6 linked regions of the Homo sapiens genome follow. Changing the gene in region 3 together with the main gene of any one other region gives a genetic interaction. Each region holds a gene or a part of one and is shown on either strand. Other genes may lie near its edges.

Region 1 (3,500 bases), on a different chromosome or scaffold from region 3:
TTTTTTTGAGACGGAGTTTCATTCTTGTTGCCCAGGCTGGAGTGCAATGGTGTGATCTCAGCTCACAGCAACCTCTGCCTCCTGGGTTCAAGCAATTCTCCCGCCTCAGCCTCCCGAGTAGCTGGGATTATAGGCATGCGCCACCACGCCCGGCTAATTTTGTATATTTAATAGAGACGGGGTTTCACCTTGTTGGTAAGGCTGGTCTCGAACTCCCATCCTCAGGTGATCTGCCCGCCTCAGCCTCCCAAAGTGCTGGGATTACAGGCATGAGCCACTGCACCCGGCCACATCTGCCCATCTCTTACTAGGGCTCCAGGCACAGATCTTGGTTGATCTTTTACACACACTGGGTGGTGATTTCATTGATGCATATCTCCACCAGATTATGAGCTGCCCATCTTTGCCCTCCACACTCCCAGAACACGGTAGGTGTTCAAATATTTGTTGAATGAAGGGGAAAAGGAGTAGAGAAACAAGAGATGGCCATAAAACCTGTGGTGGCTACTTCCCATGACACAGGTGGCAGGTGAGGGCTGCATAGCCACCCATTCATGAGCCATCCAACCCTGAGCTGGCTTTGAAGACAGACTCGGATCCTGCCTCCCAGACCTGGCCTTTTTCTTGTCCTTTGCCAGGGGCTACCTGCGGACATATTTCTTCTCGAGGTGGATGTTCTTATAGTCGACGCCTCCCTCGGGGTCCTGGCCGGGGCTCAGGCTGGGTCCCAGCATGGCCTCAGCCTTCCTTCGCAGAAAGTTGAGCAGGTCGCCATAGCAACAGTACTCCGTGATGACCAGTACAGGGCCTAGAGCAGCCAAGGGTGTGGGGTGAGGGAGGTGCTGAGTGCTCCCCTCCATGAACAGGAGCATGAGACTGGGGGCAGTGAGGCCACTGGACTTGGACTCAGCATAGCTGAGTTCTAACCTCGGCTCTGTGAGCAAGTTTCCTTGTGCCTCAGTAGTTCCATTTGTTTAAAACAGATGGCTTTGGCGGGGCACGGTGGCTCATGCCTGTAATCTCAGCACTTTGGGAGGCCAAGGTGGGTGGATCACGAGGTCAGGAGATCGAGACCATCCTGGCTAACATGGTGAAACCCCATCTCTACAAAAATACAAAAAAATCAGCCGGGCATGGTGGCATGTGCCTGTAGTTCCAACTACTCAGGAGGTTGAGGCAGGAGAATTGCTTGAACCTGGGAGGCAGAGGTTGCAGTGAGCCGAGATCGCACCACTGCACTCCAGCCTGGGTGACAGAGTGAGGCTCCGTCTCAAGAAAAAAAAAACAAAAAATGAAAAAAAAAAGACAACCTTAAAAAAAATGTAGCCCAAGAATTATTTCTTCAAAGGAAAGCTATGGCGGCTCACTGTAGGTCAGAGCTGCTATCAGTGAAGAGGATGTGGGGCACTTGGAGTCCCAGCAAAGCCCGGGGCACCTTTGGGGGCCCTGGGGAGAGTGTCCAAGCATCCTTGAATGGAAGCTTCATAAGAGGTAGGCGGGGGGCTTCACTCCAGACCCAGAGGATCCGGCTCCCTGGAAGCAGGGCCTAGGAGCTTGCACATTCATCTCCTCCTCCAAGGGCTCCGATGCTCCCTATCAGTCTCTCTTTATACCTCAAGCTGCCCGTGCAGCTCCTGACTATTCCAGGAGATGGGCCCAGGAGTTTAAGGGATGCTGTGACCGGGATCCCCCTGACACTTGGAGCAGTAGGATCCTGAGAAGGAGAAGACGGAACAAGGTAGCCCTGGGGCCCTGAGATTCCCCAGAGGCCCCAAGACCTTGGCCCCAGGAACCCCAAGGCCCTTACCTCCATGGGTACAGGCTCCCAGAAGGTTGACGATGTTCTCGTGCTGGCCCAGGTGGCTCATGATCTTCAGCTCGGACATGAGGGCCTCCTTCTCATCAGCATGGGCCGTGGCTGGGAGGAAGAACCACAGTCCCAAAGACAGGGAGAGGGCAGGACAGAGAGCACCACACAGATACATGGGGACCAAATGCAGAGACCCAGGGGAGAAAGCAGGGCATACCCCAAGACCCGGAGTGACCAGAAGCCAAAAGAAGGAGAAGGAAAAATGCAGACACACAGATGGCAGAGAGAGAGAGAGGAGGGATGAGCCTGTCACTGAGCTGGTCTTCAGGTGACAGGAAGCCAAACTGTGGCCAGGCCATGGCCATAGGTGGCCTTTCTGCACCCCCAGACTTTTTGGAGCTCAGTCAGGAGCCCCTTCACAACTAAAGGGTGACCTAGACCTTCTTGGAGCCGGGAGTCAGAGGGTGCCTGGAGCTCACAAGAAAACCCAAGTCCTCACCCCTGAGCTCTGTCCCCCAGGCTTCAACAGGTTGAAATGTGTGTGATGCCTCTTGTGACACCAGGGCCAGCCCACCCCCAGCATCTACCACCCCCCATCCCTTCCCTCATCCCCTCCCCTCACTCACACTTCAGCATCTTCACAGCCACCTTCAGGACAGCATCCTCCTTGCCCAGACCAAAGGCCGTGGCCTCCACCACCTTCCCAAAGGCTCCAGCTCCGAGGGTCTTACCTGCCACGCACACAGGTCCCTTAAGTCCCTGGGCACCAAAGGGCCTCTGTCCAAGGGCCCATGGGCTCCCTGCAACCCCCACAGGCCCTGTGATAGGAAGCTGTGGAGTGATGAGCTGCCATCTCACCAAACTGCAGGTTGTTCCGGGGGAACTCCCACTTCTCGTTGTAAGGCAGCTGCGTGGGGTCGATGAAAGTATAACTGTTGCCCTCATAGCTCTCGATGATCTTCCAGCGGACCTGGTACTTGGGCTTCTGCAGAAGAGGAAGGGAGCACGTGGCAGTCGGGGCTGGCAGGCAGTTCCTGGACCTTGTTTCTGACCCCCAAGAGCAGGGGTGTGGGCAGTCCCAAGGCGCCCAGTGGGAGAAGGCAGGGCAAGGCCTGCTCTGGGCTGAGAGAGGTCGTCTCATGAACATAGCACTGAGAGCATGTTCCTGCTTGACTCTGCCTTGTTGTGTGACCTTCCCTTCTCCAAGCCTGTTTCACTATTTGTGTATTGAAGACCTTGGACAAGACAACCTCTGAGGGCCCTGATATCTCTGATAATCTGGTAATTCCTGAGCCAGGAGGGAGGGTGGAACTTGAGATCTTATCCATCCGTTCATCTGTCCATCCATCTACCCATCCATCCACCCACCCAACCTCCCATCCAAATATATATATATATTTTAATTGTGATAAAACATACATGAAATTTACCATTTCAACCATTTTTAAGTGTATGGTTCAGTAGTATTAAGTAAATTACATTCTACCTTGTGCAACCAGTTTCCAGAGCTCTTTTCATCTTGCAAAACTGAAATTCTGTTCCTGTTAAAAAGCAACTCCCCTTTCCCTCCTCCAGCCCCTGGCAACCATGATTCTGCTGTCTCTGTGAATTGCACTGCTCTAGGCACTGCACCTCAGTGGACTCACACAGCATGTGTCTATTGAGATTGCCTTATTTCACCCAGCATAAT
Region 2 (3,500 bases), on a different chromosome or scaffold from region 3:
TCTCATCACAACTCAGTTCCTTTCTCTCTCATTCTCTCTCTGTCTCCTTCTGTCTTCCCTCCTCTCTTTATCTTGCTCTCCCTCACTTTTCCTCCCTCTTACTTCTCCCTCCCTTTATAACCATCTCCTTCCCTGACACACAAACCTCTCTTTCCCTCTTCTCCCTCTCTCCTGCTCCCTCTTTTTGCATTTTTGCCCAGACTTTCTTTTTGACCTAGGGCACTACTGCATCCAAACACCTACTGATCACCATTCAGGGTTTCAGTTGAGGCACTTTATTATTTTGGTTTTTTACTTTTTTAGAAATGGGTTCTTTCTATATTGCCCAGGTTGATCTTAAACCTGACCTCAAGTGATTATCCCACTTCAGCCTCCTCGGTACTTGGTATCACAAGCGACAGCCACCAGATCTGGCTTGAAACACTTTCTATCACACTTTCTGTACTCCCAGCCATGCTTCTCTTGCTCTCAACTCCATCCTTGCCTATGTGGACTGGGAATGTCTTGTGGGGGACTGTTCCTACTAGGCTGGGAGTACCTGGAAAACACATCCATAGGCAGGGTTCTTTCCAGGTCTCCAGAGCACAGAAAGGTGTGGGAACAGAACTGGCAATGGAAAGGCATGTGGAAGAGTTTGCTGAATGAAGACTGAATGGATGAACGATGCAGGTGTTCTAGACAAAAGATAGATGACTTTTACCCCCAGGTCTCCCTTAGGACTCCCTGGACTGGACCGGAGGGTAGGAATTAGGGAACAGAAGAGTAAACATTCAGGAAGTAAAGATGTTTGAAAAAAATATGATAATTCAGAGTAAACAAGAAAGGAGTGAAGGGAAAATTCATTGACTGAACATGTCTAGATGTCATCGTCTGCCTTCATATATTGTCCTTAGTTCTCTCAGCGGGCTAGGACTCTCTGTCCCAAAAGTCTGAAAACTTTCCCCTGCTAGCCAGGTTGGATACCAAGTTCTGCCTCTGTGCTCTGCTCCTAGTACTACTAAGCAATAATGGAAGAATTGACAAAAACAACTTCTCCCTCCCCACCTGAGCAAACATTCAAGAAGTGAGGATTTTCGAAAAAACTGATATTTCTGGGAGAACAGAAACAGAGTGGAGGGGAAGTTCATTTGCTGAACATGTGCAAAGTAGCATTATCTGTCCTCACACATTGTCACCAATTCTCTTAGCAGCCCGGGTCTTTCGGTCCTAAAGGCCTGCAACTTTTCCCCTGACAGCCAGGCTTGGTATCAAGCCCTGCCTGTGGTCCTCTGCTTTTATACCCACTAAGCAATAGTGGAAGAATCCACAAAACAACTCCTCCACCCCTCCTCACTTGGGGAGCAGAACCAATGATGGGCTCAGGAACAGGCCAGAAGAACTTGCACTCACCATTCAATCTCTTTAGGATCGCGGTCCTTCAGAAGCTCTTGCACCTCCTGTCGGCAGCGCTCCTGGTATTCTGGGTGCCTCGCAAGGTTGTACAGGACCCAGGAGAGGCCACTGGCCGTGGTGTCATGGCCTGAGGAGCAGCCAGGTAAGCTTGGCTTCAGCACCGGAGGGTGGACAGCGCCCAGATATTGAGGCCCTCAGGAGGATGGAGGGAGGGGGAAGATGGGCAGAATGGAGTGATCCAGGGTCCACCCACCCGGATCCTGAGATGGAGGGACCTCTGTCTCCACTGTAGTCCCACACTGGGACCCTCACCTCCAAACATGAAGGTGTCAGCCTCTGCTCTTATATCCTCATCTGACAATGCCTTCCCATCTTCATCCTGAAGAGAAAGCAAGACACACACACACACACACACACACACACACACACACACACACAAATTATACTATCTCTGAGACTCCGGAGTCTAACCTGAGATAATCTCTGAAGCTCTGATCTTCCAGAAACTCAAATGCACTCTGCACGTCTAGATCTCTCTTGTTCACCATCACCAAAGCCCCAACTCCAAGGGCTTCCCCCAGATCCTTTGCCTCCTCTTTGGACCCTGGTGACAGGAATCAATGGTTCTCGAATATTTTCATTTTTCTGCATAATACAGACTTTCAGAGAAAAAGATACTGGCAACCTGGGGTACAGGATATTTGAATGGCAATTTGCCTTGGAGGTTAGAAATTATGTATTGCTCCAAAAATATTTGCTGACATTCTAGAGTGGTAAACCCAGAGAATCTTATCTTTCCAGAAGATATTTGGGTTATAAAACTCTAGAAATTGCCATCTCACAGGAGAGGGGTAGTTTATACGCCAGAACAAAGCATTCTCTCTCTCTCTCTTTCTCTGTCTCTAACTTTCACCCTGTAATAAAGAAGGAGCATATGAGCTAGCTGTCCTATATAAGCTATAATACTCATAATGTGGGGGCCCCTCTCCTTGGTGCAAATTCTTGTGCATTTACAGGTAAAAACATTGTGTTGCCCTAGGAATGGGGAGCCAGCACTACCATCCTACTCCACCTGCTGTTACTGCTGTAAATAATTAATGGGCTGCTGTGATCCAGGGGTTTGGTGCATCTTTTATCATAGATACAGACATAGACAAAGACATAGACATATAGATACACATAAAAATGTGAAAGACTAACACACTAACTTATAAGTTGAATAAAATATCATGCTCCTCACAGTTTCAGAATTAGCAGTGCCCTGTGGGCTGCATGCAATAAAGTCATCTCTAAAACCTATCTGTGACCTTCCCTTTCTCAAGCATCTTCCATGGCTCCCAGTGCCCTTTGGATCAAAACCAATTTATTTCACCTGACATTTGACATGAAGCTCTATTCTCTCACCTAAATTCAGATCATAGAGAAACCTACCTTGCTCAGCAGAAGCACATCAATGAAATCCAAAGTCTTGGACTTGGCTTTGTCTTTGAAAAAATCATCAATACCCTGAGTGGGGAGGGTGCGACGCCGCTCCCGGATGACAGCGTCTGTGAAGTCATGCACCAGGCGGCAGGCCCTGTGGAAGCGCCGCCCGTCATGGGAGAGGTAATACAGAAAGTCCATGTGCTGGAGGATATGCTGGCTTCTTTTCTCTACAAGGGCACTGAGCTCCAAGATGGTGGCAATATATTCACTGGGCCTCCTGCAGAGCAAGGGCAGAAAGGGAGGCAACAATGTAACGTATGCAAAGCCCCAGGAACACCTCCCACCAGCAGCCAGGAGCTACCTCCCATCAGGAAACTGAGTATCTAGAAATAGATGGTCCTAGAGATACATGGTGGGTATCAGTCATGAGACTGACTCTCTAGACTGTCTTCTCTCCCTGCATCCTATCTCTGAGAGAGCTGTCTCCATGCACCTAGGCACCTAGAGTATAGCTTGGACACCATGCTTCTCTCCTCTGTCTCCCATCCAGTATGCAGTACTGATCATTTTCCTTACCAAAACTGTCCACACAACTCAGACTTCATCCTCTTCCAGTTCAGCCCTGCTCCAGCCCCCAGCATAACCAACTCTCTCTCTCTTTCTCTCTCTCTCTCTCTGTCTCT
Region 3 (3,978 bases):
CCAATTCCCTGAGATCCTTAAACACCAGGACACTTTCACACCATACTTCTTCCCCCAGAGTTCCCAAGACATGCCCTGGCCCTGGGCTCCCGGGGACAAGTGGTCAGGACAAGCACGGCCCTGGCGAGGGCATTTCCTGGCATCAGGAAAGGGCAGGATGTGGGGCAAAGGTGCCAGTGGATTAGCTCCTGGAGAGGAAGGGGCGGTCCTTTCAAAGGAGGCACCAACAGCAGCTGGCCAGGGGACAGGAGGCAGGTCCTTCACCTCCACTGACCCTTGTGGGGGCTGTAAGGCCAAGCCTGGGGGGGTAAGGACCCCACCTCAGAGCCCTATTGGCTTCCCCAGGCCCTGCCATGCCTTGGAAAAGTCCCTTCCCAAGAGGAGCCCACGGAGGGCACAGTTGTTCTCTGGGGGGTGTCTCACCCTCCTTAGGCACTCAAGGAGGCTGCTCTGTAGCCACTCCTAAGAAGTAGTCCCCATCCCCTCACCCCCAACTCCACCAGCCCTGGGCCTTCCTCACTCCAACGGGCCTCTTTATAGCCACAAATATTCATCCTAGGCCTCCCAATGGACACTAAGGACTGGGCTACTACAAACCGTTGACCCTGAACCGAAGCTTGACCTCATGTCCTGAGCAATTTCAACTCTCTGCCCCAGCCTAGCCCAGCTGAGGTCTCTGCACAGAGTCAAGGTTGCCACCCCCAACGCACTTAATGGCCGAGAGAGCCCTGCTGTCTTCCCCCCCTGCCCCTCCCTGTGCCGCATCTTTCTCCCCTTCACCTCTGAAATTATGTGGGCCCAGTTCAGATGGGGCAGAGGCAGGCCAGCAAGCACCCGAGAAACAGGCCGAAGGACAGACCCAGAGACAGGTGGAAAAGACAGGTAGAGGAAGAGTGGACAGTCAGGTGGACAGGTGGATAGGCAGATGCACAGACAGGCACCCGGATAACTGCACAGGCCACAGATGGATGGAAACAGGCAAGCAGAAGGACTGCGGACAGTTAGGTGGAAGGGTGAGCAGACTGGCCAACTCGCACACAGGTGGAAACTCAGGCTGGCAGAGGGACAGCCAGGCCAGCAGGAGGGCTGCTAGACAGTCAGGTGGGCAGGCAGGTGGGCCACCCAGGAGACCCCAGCGCCAAAGGGCCCTCTCTGGTGGCAGCAAAAAGGGATTAATAGCCACACATTTTCCAGGGACCAGAGGTCTCTCTCTGGGCACCTCTGAGCGTCCCAGCGTCAGGCCCAGCCCTTCAACTGATATCTGCGGGGCCTCTCATGTTCCTGGCTGGGCCAGGCCGTACCCCAAGACTGAGCTCTGAGCTGCCAAAATTCACTCTTCACACCCAAGAGGGGTCAGTGTTTTTGAAAGTTGTAGGAGCCTGGTGAGAGGGAGGAGGGGGCCCCAGCAGCGTCAGTGTTTCCAAACCTACCCCTCTCCTCTTTCTTTTTCCCCTGGTGCCTAGAGCCAGGCCTGGTGCTGCCAGCCAACAAGGCAGGCGAGCTGGGCCAAGCCGGCAGGGTAGGGCAGGGCAGGCAGGGCGGCCGCCGTTGCCACTGGGAAGTTGAGGGTGGAGGGGAAGACTGAGCGAAGACACAGATCAAGTCGGACACAGCATATGCGAGTGTCAGGGCCCAGGGGGCCCACAGGGACCCCCACACACCCACAGTCAGCTGGGCAGGGGTAGGAATGAGGGCCGCCCTGGAGAGGAGCACCCCTGAGGGGAGCCCTTCATAGCTCAGAGCTGGGGAGCAGGTGACAGAAGCGTGTGGGAGCCAAGGGTTCCTCTTTGTGTCTGGGACACAGGGAGGCAGGGGTGGGGAAGAGGAAAAGGGCGCCCACTCCAGGGGCCCCAGACTTCGCCAAGCGGACTTGGGGGAGGCAGCTGGCGGTCGGGAGTACCTGGGACAGAGGAGCAGAGATTGGCGGTCAGGATGGAAATAAGCAGTTGCGGTGCGGGGAGGTCAGAAGCGAGGTCAAGCAGGGGTCAGGCCTGGGAGATCAGGGCTTAGGGTCGGGCTCAGCGAGGGGATCAGAAACCGGGCTTAGGCCTGGGGGGAGAGAGATGAGGGTCGGCCCTGAGGCAGGGGGGTAGAAGGCGGAGCCAGGGCGGGGCGGCCGTGCCCCGGGAGGCCAGGCTTGCGCGGGGAAACGCGGAAGGGCGCGGGGTCGCAAACTCACATGAAGACGTGGTAGACGAAGGCCCAGCCGCGGGGCCGCTCCAGCACGTTGTAGACCCAGTTCTGCAGGCGGCGGTAGCGCTTGTGCGCGGCCGAGGAGCGCTGGCCGCAGGCGGAGCCCGAGCCGGAGCCCGGCCCAGGGAGGGGCGCGCCCGGCGGCAGGGGGCTGCCCAGGAGGCCGAGGCGGCGCGGGGAGCCGCCCCCGCCCGCCTCGCCCTGTTCGCTCTGCACGGCCGTGAGCGCCACTAGCTCCGCGCGGGGGGCGTCCCCGGGCGGGGGACCCAGGCCGAGGCGGCGCGGGGGGGCCTCGGCCATGGGCGGCGCCGGGCTGGGGGCGCCGGGGCCCGGGCACGGTCCGGGGCGGGGGCGCGCTCGGGGCGCTCAGAGACGCATGGCTCGGACCCGGGGCCAGAGGGGCGACCCGGGGCGGGCGCGGGCGGCGGGGGCTAGGGGCCGGGCCGGGGCCGCGGGCGGGCGCTCGGAGCCTGGGGGCCGCCGGAGCCCGCACTGACCTCCCGCTTCCCCGGCGACTGGGGCTGCTCTTTCCGACTCCAACTCTCTTATTACGCGCTCCATGCCGCTCGCCTTTCCACCTGCCACCGGCGCGCGCCGCTCACATGTCACCCTCCCCCGCCCCGCCCCTCCCCCGCCCGCCCCGCGGCCGCCTTCCCAAATCGGGAGGGAGCGAGCGAGCAAGCGAGGCGAGGCGGAGGGAGGGAACGCGCGGAGCAGGCGGCGGGGCAGGGCGCACGGGCGGCCGAGTTGGTGCCTGGGCCGAACCGCGTGGCGGGGGCAGCGCGCGGGGCCGGGAAGCCGGACGCGTGCAAGTGGTGTCCACCGCTGCGTGGGGCAGTGTGGCCCCGAAGGCCAGCCCGGGGTGGGACGCCTCGTGTGTGCTTGTGGAAAGTGGAATGTGGAGTTGTGGCCGCGGGCGGCAGGGGAAGGGACGCAGTGTCCCGTGGAGTTTAGGTGTAGACCGGTGGAACGGCGTCTACTTGTGTGTGCAGGGTGGGTGGCTGTGGGTCTACCAGGTGCGGGGATGGAGTCAGTGAGGTGTGAGTTATGGGTCGGGTGTGGGTGGCTGCGAAAGTGGAGGTGGAGTCCGAAGGGGATGAGGTGTGTCCGTTGGGGTCGAGCACTGTGTGCCTGGTGCGGGTGCTTAAAGTGTGCCCAGTGCTGTGTGTGGCTGGGTGGGCAGCGGCGGTTGTCCTGCTCTTACCTGAAAGGCCTGGAGCCCACGGGCTGCTAGGCAGCATCAGGGTGTGTGGAACACAGTGGGCCTGGGTGTGTCTTTCTCCCACCAACTGCCACCTCTGAGCTTCCCTTCATCGTGATGGGGGAAGAGCCACCCTGCCCAGAAGAGGATCCTCCCCGATGGAGGGGCCTGCTCCCCTGCCCCACTCCCAGGTCAGGGAACTGGGTTTGGGCAGATGGAGTGTTGGGAGATGAGCTCTAAGCCAGCCTTAGAGGGGACACACACCCCCTACCCAAGGCCCACAGAATCCCAGCCAGAAAAGGGGATACTTTGTCCCAGGGCATTCCCTCTCCAGCTGGAAAGTTTTTCTTAGTCCCCGACCTCCATCTCTCTGGCTGTAGGGGGCAGTCCCTCTCCTTTAGCCCTCCTGGGCCCTGCACAGGGTTGGTAACTTGGGTTTCCCGATCCTCTTTCCCTCTTCCTCCACGGAAAGCTGCGGCCACACCAGCCGCTCCCTCCGCAGGCCCTGCCCCAGGGTGAGCCTTCCGCAGCAAACTCTTCCCGGTTCCTCCGGGAGGATCTCGAGGGACGAAGCCGAGCGGGAG
Region 4 (3,500 bases), on a different chromosome or scaffold from region 3:
GCTTCAGCCTCCCGAGTAGCTGGGATTACAGGGGCTCACCACCACGCCGGGCTAATTTTTGTATTTTTAGTAGAGATGGGGTTTCACCATGTTGGCCAGGCTGGTCTCGAACTCCTGACCTCAGGTGATCCACCCACCTCAGCCTCCCAAAGTGCTGGGATTACGGGTGTGAGCCACCGCGCCCAACTTGCGGGGACCCAAATTTTTACCCGTGTGACTATTTTTACCTACCTGTGGGAAAGCCTTTGCAATGGGTTCAAAATGCTTTATTCTTAGACCTCTCCTCTCCTTTTTTTTGGTGTAATTTTAACTGCTTTGTGTTTGAAAACAACATGGTTTCACCACTGTGGTACAACAGGTTCCATGTACTGAGCACTTAATATGTAGCAGGCACCAGGCTAGTGTTGACTACATACTGTCATCATACGAATTGTCCACTTCTTATAATAGCTCTGTAAAGCAGGTATTTTAAGAAGGAATAAAGAATGATACTACCTTCCTACCCTTGGTTGGTGTGTTGTGTACACTCTTGGCTAGAAAGCATTTTGTGACGCAGAGCACTTTGAAATAAGGGTATGGTGGCTGACGCCTGTAATCTCAACACTTTGGGAGGCCAAGGTGGGTGGATCGCTTGAGTCTCAGGAGTTCCAGACCAGCTGGGGCAACCCTGGGTCTACAAAAAATACAAAAATTAGCTGCGCACGGTGGTACATGCCTGTTGTCCCAGCTACTCAGAAGGCTGAGACAGGAGGATTACTTGAGCCTAGGAGGTTGAGGTTGCAGTGAGCCGTGACTGTGCCACTGCACTCCAGTCTGGGTGACAGAGAGTGAGAGAAAGAGAGAAGAAGAGAGAGGAGAGAGGAGAAAGGAGAGGGGAGAAGGGAGAGAGGAGAGAGGAGAGGGGAGAGGGGAGAGAGGAGAGAGGAGAGAGGAGGGGAGGGGAAGGCAGGGCAAGGCAGGGCAGGGCAGGGCAGGTTAGTGGAGGAGAGGAGAAGAAAGACAAGAAAAGAAAGAAAGAAAGAAAGAAAGAAAGAAAGAAAGAAAGAAAGAAAGAAAGAAAGAAAGAAAGAAAGACAGACAGACAAAGAAAGAAAAGAAAGAAAGAAAGAAGGAAGGAAGGAAGGAAAGAAAGAGAGAAAGAAGAAAGGAAGGAAGGAAGGGAAAGAAAAAGAAAGAAAGAGAAAGAAAGAAAGGAAGAAGGAAGGAAGGAAGAGAAGAGAGAGAAAGAAAGAAAAGAAAAAGAGAGAGAAAGAAAGAAAGAAAAAGAAAAGAAAGAGAAGGAAAGAAAAAGAAAGAAAGAAGGGAGGGAGGGAAGGAAAGAAGGAAGGAAAGGAAGGAGGGAGGCAGGGAGGGAAAAGAAAAGAGAGAAGAGAGAGGGAAGGAGGGAAATAAAGGAGGGAAAGAAAAAGAAAGGAAAGCAAAAAGAAAAGAAAAAAGAGCAAGAATAGAGATGTTCACCTATTCCTGTGTGAGCTCAGCAGTCCCTGGCCTAGTGGAGCTCCTCAGAGGCTGCGCTGAAGCCCTCCCCCAGAGGATGTGCAGGCATCAAAAGCCTTGATATGAGAGGCCTCAGCCGCCACTGAGCTTGTTGGTGCAGGCCCCCAGGGAGTCTGTGTGCTCAGACATGGGGACAAACAGCCATACAAGGAGTGCTCCCGACGGGCTTTGCTGCCGATGCCAGTGTATGAATCTGTAAAGAAGGGATCCATCGTGGGGTTCCCTTTGACCAGAGGGTGGAAAAGATTCAGGGTGAAAGGGGAGCTATGGTATGTCAGGGGACACTCACAGAGATTTCTTGGGAAAATTTAAGGGCTGGATGGTCCCAAATGAGATGGGAAGATTCCTTAGAGAGGAAGGGAATCCTTTTCTGAGCCAAATGGGAAGGAGCATGATGCCCAGGGTGAGACCAGGCTGCAGGGCTGCTCCATGGTTAGGGAGATTAGGGCCACTGCTCTGATGTGGAGAGGACCCATGGGAAGGGCCAAACGGGATTATTTCCACAGAGAGAGGAGCAGTTGGGGAGAGAGATAAGGAGAGAGTAAGTGTGCCTTCGATGATGGAATAGCCCATGCAAAGACGAAGGACAATGAAATACTATTACTTTTATTGCAAAGTCAATGCACTTCACATAAATGAGCTCAAATTATCATTGTCTGCATCCAAAATATATACATTATGGAAGTCAATGGCAGGAGGCTGTCCTGAGGCTCTGCTCTCCCTTCCTCAATCCGCAAGAGTGACTGTACAATGAGAGGTAAATCAGAGGGAAGGATGGAGATGAGAAAGAGTCCAGGCCTTTATCCAGACAGACATGGCTGCGAGGACTTGAGCCCTGGATTCCTCAACTGTAAATGGAAATAGCAATACCTAGGGTTCCACGAGTGTTCAATGATTTTTCTTTTTTTTTTTTGAGAGGGAGTCTCAATCTGTCACCCAGGCTGGAGTGCAGTGGTGTGATCTCAGCTCATTGCAACCTCCGCTTCCTGGGTTCAAGTGATTCTCCTGCCTCAGCCTCCCAAGTAGCTGACATTACAGGTGCTCGCCACCACACCCGGCTAATTTTTATATTTTAGTAGAGATGGGGTTTCACCATGTTGGTCAGGCTGGTCTTAAAACTCCTGAACTCAAACAGTCCTCCTGCCTCAGCCTCCCAAAGTGTTGGGATTACAGGCGTGAGCCACTGCACCCAGCCCAGTGATTACATGTTAAAAAAAGTCCTAGGGTCGCATGACATGGGATTAAGTATAGAAAGCGCCTGGCAAACAGGAGGTGCTCGGCAGATGCCGGCTCCCTCCTCTCCACCCCAGGCTCGTCTTCAGTGTCAGCTGAGGGATTCTGGTTTTGCTACATACGCACAGTCTTTTTGGCTGGCCAAACTGAGGCTGCTCGAAACACTTGCATTTGAACTGTCCAGGCTGCTGCCGAGGTGTAGTTTTCTCATATGTCTGACGACGGCCGTGGCATTAAATGCTTGCTGAAATTTCAGAAAGGAAAAAAGCAGACAAATATTTCAGCTAATCGGAAAAGACTCTAACTGTGTTCTCTTGTTTATCACATTAGCCTAAGCATTTCAAACTCCTTACATCATTCTCATGCTACTCAAGAAGGAAAGCTTATGTTGTCCCTTCTTCTAAAAGTGCACTGATTTATTAACCCCTTTCCCCAACTAAATATTTTAGAGACTTAAAATAGTTTTCTTCTGACATCATAAATACATAGAATAAACATAAACCAATTCTCTCTGTAATTTAAGAGATGTGGCCTTTAGAATAAAAGGCATATTATAATACCTTAAAAATGTGAGATTTGAAAATAGTTTTTATTTTCCTAGTATTGGTACTTTTGTCTGAAAGATTTAGGTTGGTGCAAAAGTAATGGCAATTTTAATGGAAGAAACCACAACTACTTTTGCGCCAACCTAATGATAGCATGTCCTATGAATACAGCAGGCCAGCAAAATTAATTTTGTTTCCGTCTCATCTTTCACCATTGGCCCTCAT
Region 5 (3,939 bases), on a different chromosome or scaffold from region 3:
ATACCATAGAATACTTCACAGTCATAAAAAAAGAATAAGATCATGTCTTTTGCAGCCATATGGATGGAGCTGGAGACAATTATCCTAAGCAAACACAGGAACAGAAAATTAAATACCTCATGCTCTCACTTAAAAGCGGGAACTAAACATTAAGTAAACATGGACGTAATGATGGGGACAACAGACACGGTGACCTACTTGAGGGTGGAGAGTGGGAGGAGGGTGAGGATGGAAAAACTACCTATCAGGAACTACGCTTATTACCTGGGTAATAATAATCTGTACACTAAACCCCCAAGACAGTCAATTTATATAACAAATCTGCACATGTATCCCTGTACTTAAAAGTTGAAAAGAGGCCGGGCGCGGTGGCTCACGCCTGTAATCCCAGCACTTTGGGAGGCTGAGGTGGGAGGATCGTTTGAGCCCAACATAGGAAGACTCCTGTCTCAAAAAAAAAAAAAAAAAAAAAAAAATTACCAGGGTGTGGTGGCAGGCCCCTGTGGTCCCAGCTACTCAGGAGGCAGAAGCAGGACGATCCCTTGGGCCCAGAAACTCAAGGCTGCAGGGAACCGAGATCATGCCACTGCTTCCACCCTGGGTAACAGAGCAAGACCCCGTCTCCAAAAAAAAAAAAAAAAAAAAGCAATACAGGGGTACTTAATATTTATTCATATATTTACCTGAGAATCATCAGTTTTACTAAGGCTGTATGATGTTAGCAGATATTGGTTCTATCAGTCTCTCCGCAGACATTTGCTGTAAATAAAGCAGAGAGGCTTTCAGAGTGCACCCTGTTTTTGTTCCTCCATCCTGTTGTCTGGATCCCCTTCTAAAACGTAAGTTCCAGGATGGCAGGAACTTTGTCTATTTGGTTCACACTCGACACAGTTAGTGCTCAAAAATGTCTAACGACACAGGCCTGCTTCTCGGTTTGCACTGCTCCTCCATGGTAGTCTGTGCAGTGGGAGAAGGCAGCCCGGGCCCAGGGTCCACGGAGAAGACGCAAATCGACAGCGCGGGAGCGCGGACCTTCTGGAGGCGCGCGGCGCTTACCGCTGTCCGTCCTCGAAGCCCCGCCCCGGGGCTCCGCCTCCGCCGGCGCGTGTTCCTTTAGGGACCGCGCGCGCCGCGGCCTCGCTCTGGGGCCGGTACTTGCGCGCCCGCACCCCGCGCTCCCCGCCCCGCTCCCCGTCCCGCGCTCCACGCGCGCCCCAGCGTTGGGGGCTTCTCCTCCGCGGCGGGAATGTCTGGCCGGCTCCGGCAGCACGGCGCGGCCCAGGTCCCCGCGCCCACGACGGGCCAGCGCGCTGGGCCATGATCCGGCTGGGCGGCTGGTGTGCGCGGCGGCTCTGCAGCGCGGCGGTTCCCGCGGGGCGGCGCGGGGCGGCGGGCGGGCTGGGCCTGGCGGGAGGCCGCGCCCTACGGGTGCTGGTGGACATGGACGGCGTGCTGGCTGACTTCGAGGGCGGATTCCTCAGGAAGTTCCGCGCGCGCTTTCCCGACCAGCCCTTCATCGCGCTGGAGGACCGGCGCGGCTTCTGGGTGTCGGAGCAGTACGGCCGCCTGCGGCCAGGGCTGAGCGTGAGCGTCCCCGCCCCGCCCCGCGCCGGGCCTCCTTCTCGCCCCGAGCCCCAGACACCGCCCCTGCGCCGGTGACCTTGGACGGTCAGCGCCCCAGCCTCGGGGTGGCCCTCTGATAGAATAGGGTCTGGGGGGGACTAGGGGCCACAGCGCACCGGGAAGATGCGGCCCCGCGCTCAGGATCTGTTGGCTGCCATCCAAGGTTTCTGAAAATGCGGGAGAGTACAAAGTGTTAATATACCTAACTCTGCATTTAAAGCTGACTTCAAAATTTGTGGCATATTTGGCCTCAAGTCGTTTGTTAAATTTTTAGAAAAATAAACGTTATAAGTTGTCCTCTTTCACCCCGACCGCAGTCACATTCCCACTTCTTTGTCCCCAGGACTTTGATGGGTGTCTTTACCCATCTTTTTTACTGTTGTCCATGAAAGCATAGCTTCCAGGGGTATTTGAGGCCCAGAGAGGTTGTGTGACTTTCTGGGGGTCACACAGTGAGTCAGTGGTCCAGGTGAGGTGGGATCCACCTCATGTCTTATCCCCTTGCAGAGCTGGCCTTGCTGAACACCTGAGCTCAACCCCTACCATCCGACTCCCGAGGTGTTCTGTCCAGGATGGATAGAGGGGAAAGATCCAAGGAGGGACGTTTACACACAGATCTTGGTTGGTAAATTTGAAGTATTTTGCAAAAGGAACAGGGGATTTTGGTATGCACAAAATTAAAGAGGCTGAGTGTTTTTTGGCATCCCTTGATTGGCCACCTAGGGTTGCTGCTGGAGGGTTTGATAAAGAGGAGAAGGAAGTTACAAGAGCCCGTTTTTTAGCCACAAGTTCACTGCATCCTCTCTTTTGTTGGGTAGATATTATTATCTCTGTTTTCCAGATGAGGAAACTTGCCCCAAGTCACATGCTGCTCAGGGGCTCAGTCAGGACTCAAACCCAAGTCTGTCTGCCTCCCAAGCACAGTTAGTGCTCCCCACTCCACAGTCCTGTTCTCTGTACTACTGTCTCTAACAAGTGACATTTCTTCTGACATCAGAAAGATGCCTCATCAGTAATGTGGTTTGTTGAGGGACAGGTGTTAAAAAAGGAAACCAAGTACCGTTTGTCTCCATCAACACCAGGCACTTCAGAAGGTGACTTTCACAGAGCCCAGTGTGCTGAGCTCTTCTACAGCGGATGCCTAATGATAAACTTTAAACTGGAGAAAATGCCCTGGTACTTTCTGCAGCCTCAGGAATAGGCTCCAGTGTGTGGCGAGTGTTCATTTATAGGCAGCGCTCGGCATGGGGAGTCTGGACACCATATATCCGCCCGGGAGTGTATTAACGTGGAAACCAAGCCCACCCCCAACTCCGAAAAGTGCAGCAGCTTTTCCAGTTCTTTGTGCAAATATGTAGGCTCTGTACGTGTGGGGTTACTGGTTTCCAAGCACAAGGCAAAGGCACGGGGCAGTAAGGAGGGTGCCTTGGGAGTAATCTGCTGGCTTCCACTACTTCCCTTCCTGAGGCACGGCTTGCTGCTGTGGACATCCCTGGGCCTACCCCAAGCTGGCCCAGTATCTGTGGTTAAAACAACCGCCCCCCCCCCCCCGCCCCCACACACGTGGCTCCTTATGTGTATGTAGGCATTTCTACTTTTCAAAATTCTGCTCTGTCTGTATTCCCTTTGGTCTTCACAGTACCCTATGTGGGATGTGAGGATCAAATGTGTTTCAGTAATAAGCACGCATTTGCCTAGTCCCTGTGGTTCCTGAGAGTGTTGCTGGTATGCTGTCAGGGCATCCTCCGGCCGTCCATGTGACAGGGTGGCTGTCTTTCTGTAGTGTGCAGAACAGCTGGTAGAGGCACTTCCTGTACTGCACACGTGGGATTTAGGCTCCTGCTCATAGGCTGAGATGTGTCTCCCCTCTGGTTGTCACTTTCCCCTTGCCTGACCCTAGAAAAGGTGCTGCATTCTGGCCCTGCAGCAGAACAGGGGAAGGAGAAAGGCAGCGGGGGTTGGGGAGTGGGGAGGAGAGGGTTGGTGTTGGGGGTTCTTCTCCCAGCTCAGCTGCTGTTTTGCTGTGTGACATCAGGTGGATCTCTTCCCCGTTCTGAGCCTCAGTTTTCTGACATGTAAAATGAGGGTCTGCATTTTTGCTTTGCAACTCTAAAAGCAGCAGAATCCTTTTTTTAAAAATGTACTTATTGGCACCTCAACATATAAAACCGATAAAAGCAGAGCTCTTCTGGTTAATGTGGGGAGGATCCTCGAGCTCCCTGAATTGTCCTTTTACCCTGTCTCCCCCTCCCCCTTGTCCCTCATGGCACCTTAAAGATCTCTGAGTCCCTCCAGTTCTCAAGTTTAAGGACTCTA
Region 6 (3,197 bases), on a different chromosome or scaffold from region 3:
TATGGCTCAAACTCAAACTCCTGGGCTCAAGCAATCCTCTCGCCCACCATACCCCGCTAATTAAAAAAACTTTTTGGAGAGATGTCTCACTCACTATGTTGCCTAGGCTCGTCTCGAACTCCTTGCTTCAAGGGATCCTCCTGCTTTGGCCTCCCAAAGTGCTGGGATTACAGGCGTGAGCACCGCGCCCGACCGCTGCAACCTTTCTTGCTTTCCTTCCCCTTCCGCGTCTCTGGGTAAAGTCCCCGCTACAGAATGCCTAGCAGAGCATCGTAGGAGTCCCGCATGGCCCGATCCAAGCATGCACCTGTGCAGTTCTCTCTGTGCCCCAGGGCCTTGCACTGGGAACTCCCCAACCAAGAGTGTTTCCGATTCAACCACGCAAAAGCTAAGGCTGGTGCCCGACAGCCGGGCTTCCAGGCCCAGCTGTCCTCCGCAAGACGCTTTGCCACCCCGGATGGGCAGGACGCGACCGCACAGGAACAGAGACCAGTCACACGAATGGAGACTCGTCTTTATTGCCTTTTTTCTGGGGGCTGACGCTGGGTGGGCAGAGGGCAGAGGCCTGGGCCAGGACAGGGCCCGAAGAACGACTCAGATCCCGGACTGTCCTCCGGGCGCGACGGAGGCGGCGGCCGGGGCGGAACAGCGGCGCCCGAGGCAGGGGCGCGGCGCTGGCTCTGCGCCTGCGCGGCGGCCCATGGTCAGGATGCCCGCGGCGTGGTTGCCGCTGGCCTGCAGGAGGCGCTGCAGCCGACCCTGGAGGCCCGGGGGCCCGGACCTCCGCTTGCCCAGCGTGAGGATGCCGGCCGCGTGATTGCCCGCGCCGTGCAGCAGCTCGTAGAGGCGGCAAGAGCAAGTCTTTTGACGACAGCAGTCGGGCAGGGGCTGTGCAGCCGCCCCGGACGACAACAGCGCGGGCGGCAGCAGCAGCAGCAGCAGCAGTAGCGTCACGGCGGCCCAGGAGACCTAGGGAGACGGAGACAGGGCGCTGGGGGGGTCTTCCCACGGCGCCCGCCACCAGCTCCCACGCCCAGGACCTGCCCCTCTGGCTCCGCGCCCCCTCCAAGCCTGCACTCCTTTCTGGCTGTCACTTAGTTCTCCTTGCTTTGCGCCCTTGCTGGTATCGGCCTACTTTCCCTGCTCCTCCTTCAAGACCCAGCAGAGCATCTCCCCCAGGAAGCCTTTTGAGACCCCCTGGGCAGAGTGAATCCCCCTTTTCTCTGGAGACTTAGGCCACTGTGCCACCACTAGGGCACTTGCCACTCCACCTGAAAACAGGAGTGTCTGTCTGCAGCAGAAGTTGTAAACTTGGGAAAAACCCGGGCCCTACTGAGTCCCCCCAACTTCCTCTCCACAGCAGGGAAACACATGGAAATCAGGAACTAGCAAGACTCCAGAATGCTCTCTCATCTGCCTGCCCCCTTGCAGGAGTGACTGAACTCCGTTGCTTTGAACCAGTTTCCTGCCCTTTCAGAGGGCACAGCTCCCTTACCTGTAAACTGGGTATACTAGAAATAATTTCTACTCTGCAAGGCTGTTGGGAGGATGACAAGAGATGACAGGTGCAAACGGAGCACCTGACACATAGAGCTCAGCAAACACAGGCTCTTAGCAAAACAGCACCCAACCCAATGTGAGCCAAGGCAGGTGCTCCTGCCTCAGAGCACACCCAGGAAAAGACCAAGAGTGGAGACACCTTTGGCCTTTCTTCCAGCCCTCTGAGCAAGCACTCTTTTTGCTTCTCTGGGATGGTGAGTCACCCCTCCATCCCTGGATCTTTACCTTTGTGGAAGGAAGGTTCATGGTGTCTGGCGCTCAGGGTGGGGTAGCCGGGAAAGGAGATGTCTGTGGTGGTTCAAAAAGCCAGGAACCTTGAGGCTGTCAATTGTGACCCACTCCCAGGGGTCTGGGGTTTATAGTGCTCTGAGGTGGCGGGGAATTGACAGGCACTTGCGTCCACACCCAGGCCAGACAAAGGCAAGTCTAAGATTAGCCTGCTGCAGGGGGGCCGTCTCCAGGCTGGGCCCAAGGAATGGCCGCTGCGGCGTTCAGAGGCCAGGGTTGGATCACTGTGCCCCTGATCACCCCCTTGTCTGTCTATCTGCTCCCTGGAGATGGGGCGGTCTCCGGGCACTAATGAGGCCACCTTGCACCCAGGAATCTGGGAGCACAAAAGAGGCGCTGGCCTGGGACAATATGGAGGGAGGCAGCTGCTAATTAGGGGCGGGAGAGAGGCAGACGCGAGACCCCACATTATGTGTGTGGGGGGTGGAGCAGCCAGCAGCAGTCCTCTCCCTCCCCTGCTTCTTGTCGCTGCTCCTGGGGACTGTCAGGCTCCAGGACCTTCTTCCTTCATGGAAAGGCTCCTTAGCTGCCCCCTCCCCCTAGCTTTTTTTCTCCCTTCTGCCCTTTCCACTAGCCTCTGAGATGGAAAACCTTGAAAACTCAGCCTAGACAGTGGGAGGTAAGAAGCCAAAACCAAGCCCAATTTCTCTTTCTTTCTTTTCTGTGTGTGTGTGTGTGACTAAATTTTGGTCTTGTTGCTCAGGCTGGAGTGCAGTGGTATGGTCATCTTGGCTCACTGCAACCTCCGCCTTGGGTTCAAGCGATTCTCCTGCCTCAACCTCCTGAATAGCTCCTGAATAGAATTACAGGCACACGCCACCACAACCAGCTAATTTTTGTATTTTTAATAGAGACAGGGTTTCACCATGTTAGCCAGGGTGGTCTCAAACTCCTGACCTCAAGTGATCCACCCACCTCAGTCTCCAAAAGTGTTGGGATTACAGGCGTGGGCCACTGCACCAGGCCCCCCCGCTTTTTTTTTCTTCCTTCCTTCTTTCCTTCTTCCTTCCTTCCTGCATTTCTTTCTTTCTTTCTCTCTCTCACTCTCTCCCTCTTTCTTTCTTTCTTCTTCTTCTTCTTTTTTTTTTTTTTGAGACGGAGTTTCACTCTTGTTGCCCAGGCTGGAGTGCAATGGCGCAATCTCAGCTCACTGCAACCTCCACCTCCAGGGTTCAAGCAATTCTCCTGCCTCTGCCTTCTGAGTAGCTGGGATTACAGGCATGCGCCACCATGCCTGGCTAATTTTGTATTTTTAGTAGAGACAGGGTTTCTCCATGTTGGTCAGGCTGGTCTGGAACTCCTGACCTCAGGTGATCCGCCTGCCTCAGCCACCCAAAGTGCTGGGATTA

The links.
Region 1: changes in KCNQ4 (region 3) and CSF1R together harm fitness less than expected from each alone (positive genetic interaction), as found in Homo sapiens cells (one large-scale study listed by BioGRID).
Region 2: changes in KCNQ4 (region 3) and CYP4F12 together harm fitness more than expected from each alone (negative genetic interaction), as found in Homo sapiens cells (one large-scale study listed by BioGRID).
Region 4: changes in KCNQ4 (region 3) and CAMK1D together harm fitness less than expected from each alone (positive genetic interaction), as found in Homo sapiens cells (one large-scale study listed by BioGRID).
Region 5: changes in KCNQ4 (region 3) and NT5M together harm fitness more than expected from each alone (negative genetic interaction), as found in Homo sapiens cells (one large-scale study listed by BioGRID).
Region 6: changes in KCNQ4 (region 3) and HCRT together harm fitness more than expected from each alone (negative genetic interaction), as found in Homo sapiens cells (one large-scale study listed by BioGRID).

Annotation. Positions count from the first base shown.
Region 1 is NC_000005.10:150,059,055-150,062,554, forward strand, and holds part of CSF1R (macrophage colony-stimulating factor 1 receptor isoform a precursor), read right to left. Parts: intron 2,796-3,500; coding exon 2,669-2,795; intron 2,542-2,668; coding exon 2,437-2,541; intron 1,919-2,436; coding exon 1,808-1,918; intron 809-1,807; coding exon 646-808; intron 1-645. UniProt on the Homo sapiens protein: Tyrosine-protein kinase that acts as a cell-surface receptor for CSF1 and IL34 and plays an essential role in the regulation of survival, proliferation and differentiation of hematopoietic precursor cells, especially mononuclear phagocytes, such as macrophages and monocytes.
Region 2 is NC_000019.10:15,683,087-15,686,586, reverse strand, and holds part of CYP4F12 (cytochrome P450 4F12), read right to left. Parts: intron 3,095-3,500; coding exon 2,824-3,094; intron 1,772-2,823; coding exon 1,705-1,771; intron 1,520-1,704; coding exon 1,390-1,519; intron 1-1,389. UniProt on the Homo sapiens protein: A cytochrome P450 monooxygenase involved in the metabolism of endogenous polyunsaturated fatty acids (PUFAs).
Region 3 is NC_000001.11:40,782,609-40,786,586, reverse strand, and holds the start of KCNQ4 (potassium voltage-gated channel subfamily KQT member 4), read right to left. Parts: upstream 2,801-3,978; 5' UTR 2,494-2,800; coding exon 2,180-2,493; intron 1-2,179. UniProt on the Homo sapiens protein: Pore-forming subunit of the voltage-gated potassium (Kv) channel involved in the regulation of sensory cells excitability in the cochlea. KCNQ4/Kv7.4 channel is composed of 4 pore-forming subunits assembled as tetramers.
Region 4 is NC_000010.11:12,825,047-12,828,546, reverse strand, and holds part of CAMK1D (calcium/calmodulin-dependent protein kinase type 1D), read right to left. Parts: intron 2,975-3,500; coding exon 2,857-2,974; coding exon of another isoform or gene 2,822-2,856; exon of another isoform or gene 2,083-2,821; intron 1-2,082. UniProt on the Homo sapiens protein: Calcium/calmodulin-dependent protein kinase that operates in the calcium-triggered CaMKK-CaMK1 signaling cascade and, upon calcium influx, activates CREB-dependent gene transcription, regulates calcium-mediated granulocyte function and respiratory burst and promotes basal dendritic growth of hippocampal neurons.
Region 5 is NC_000017.11:17,302,234-17,306,172, forward strand, and holds the start of NT5M (5'(3')-deoxyribonucleotidase, mitochondrial isoform 4 precursor), read left to right. Parts: upstream 1-1,139; 5' UTR 1,140-1,317; coding exon 1,318-1,584; intron 1,585-1,615; exon of another isoform or gene 1,616-1,668; intron 1,669-2,130; exon of another isoform or gene 2,131-2,244; intron 2,245-3,939. UniProt on the Homo sapiens protein: Dephosphorylates specifically the 5' and 2'(3')-phosphates of uracil and thymine deoxyribonucleotides, and so protects mitochondrial DNA replication from excess dTTP. Has only marginal activity towards dIMP and dGMP.
Region 6 is NC_000017.11:42,183,560-42,186,756, forward strand, and holds HCRT (hypocretin neuropeptide precursor precursor), read right to left. Parts: upstream 1,894-3,197; 5' UTR 1,807-1,893; coding exon 1,786-1,806; intron 970-1,785; coding exon 595-969; 3' UTR 501-594; downstream 1-500. UniProt on the Homo sapiens protein: Neuropeptides that play a significant role in the regulation of food intake and sleep-wakefulness, possibly by coordinating the complex behavioral and physiologic responses of these complementary homeostatic functions.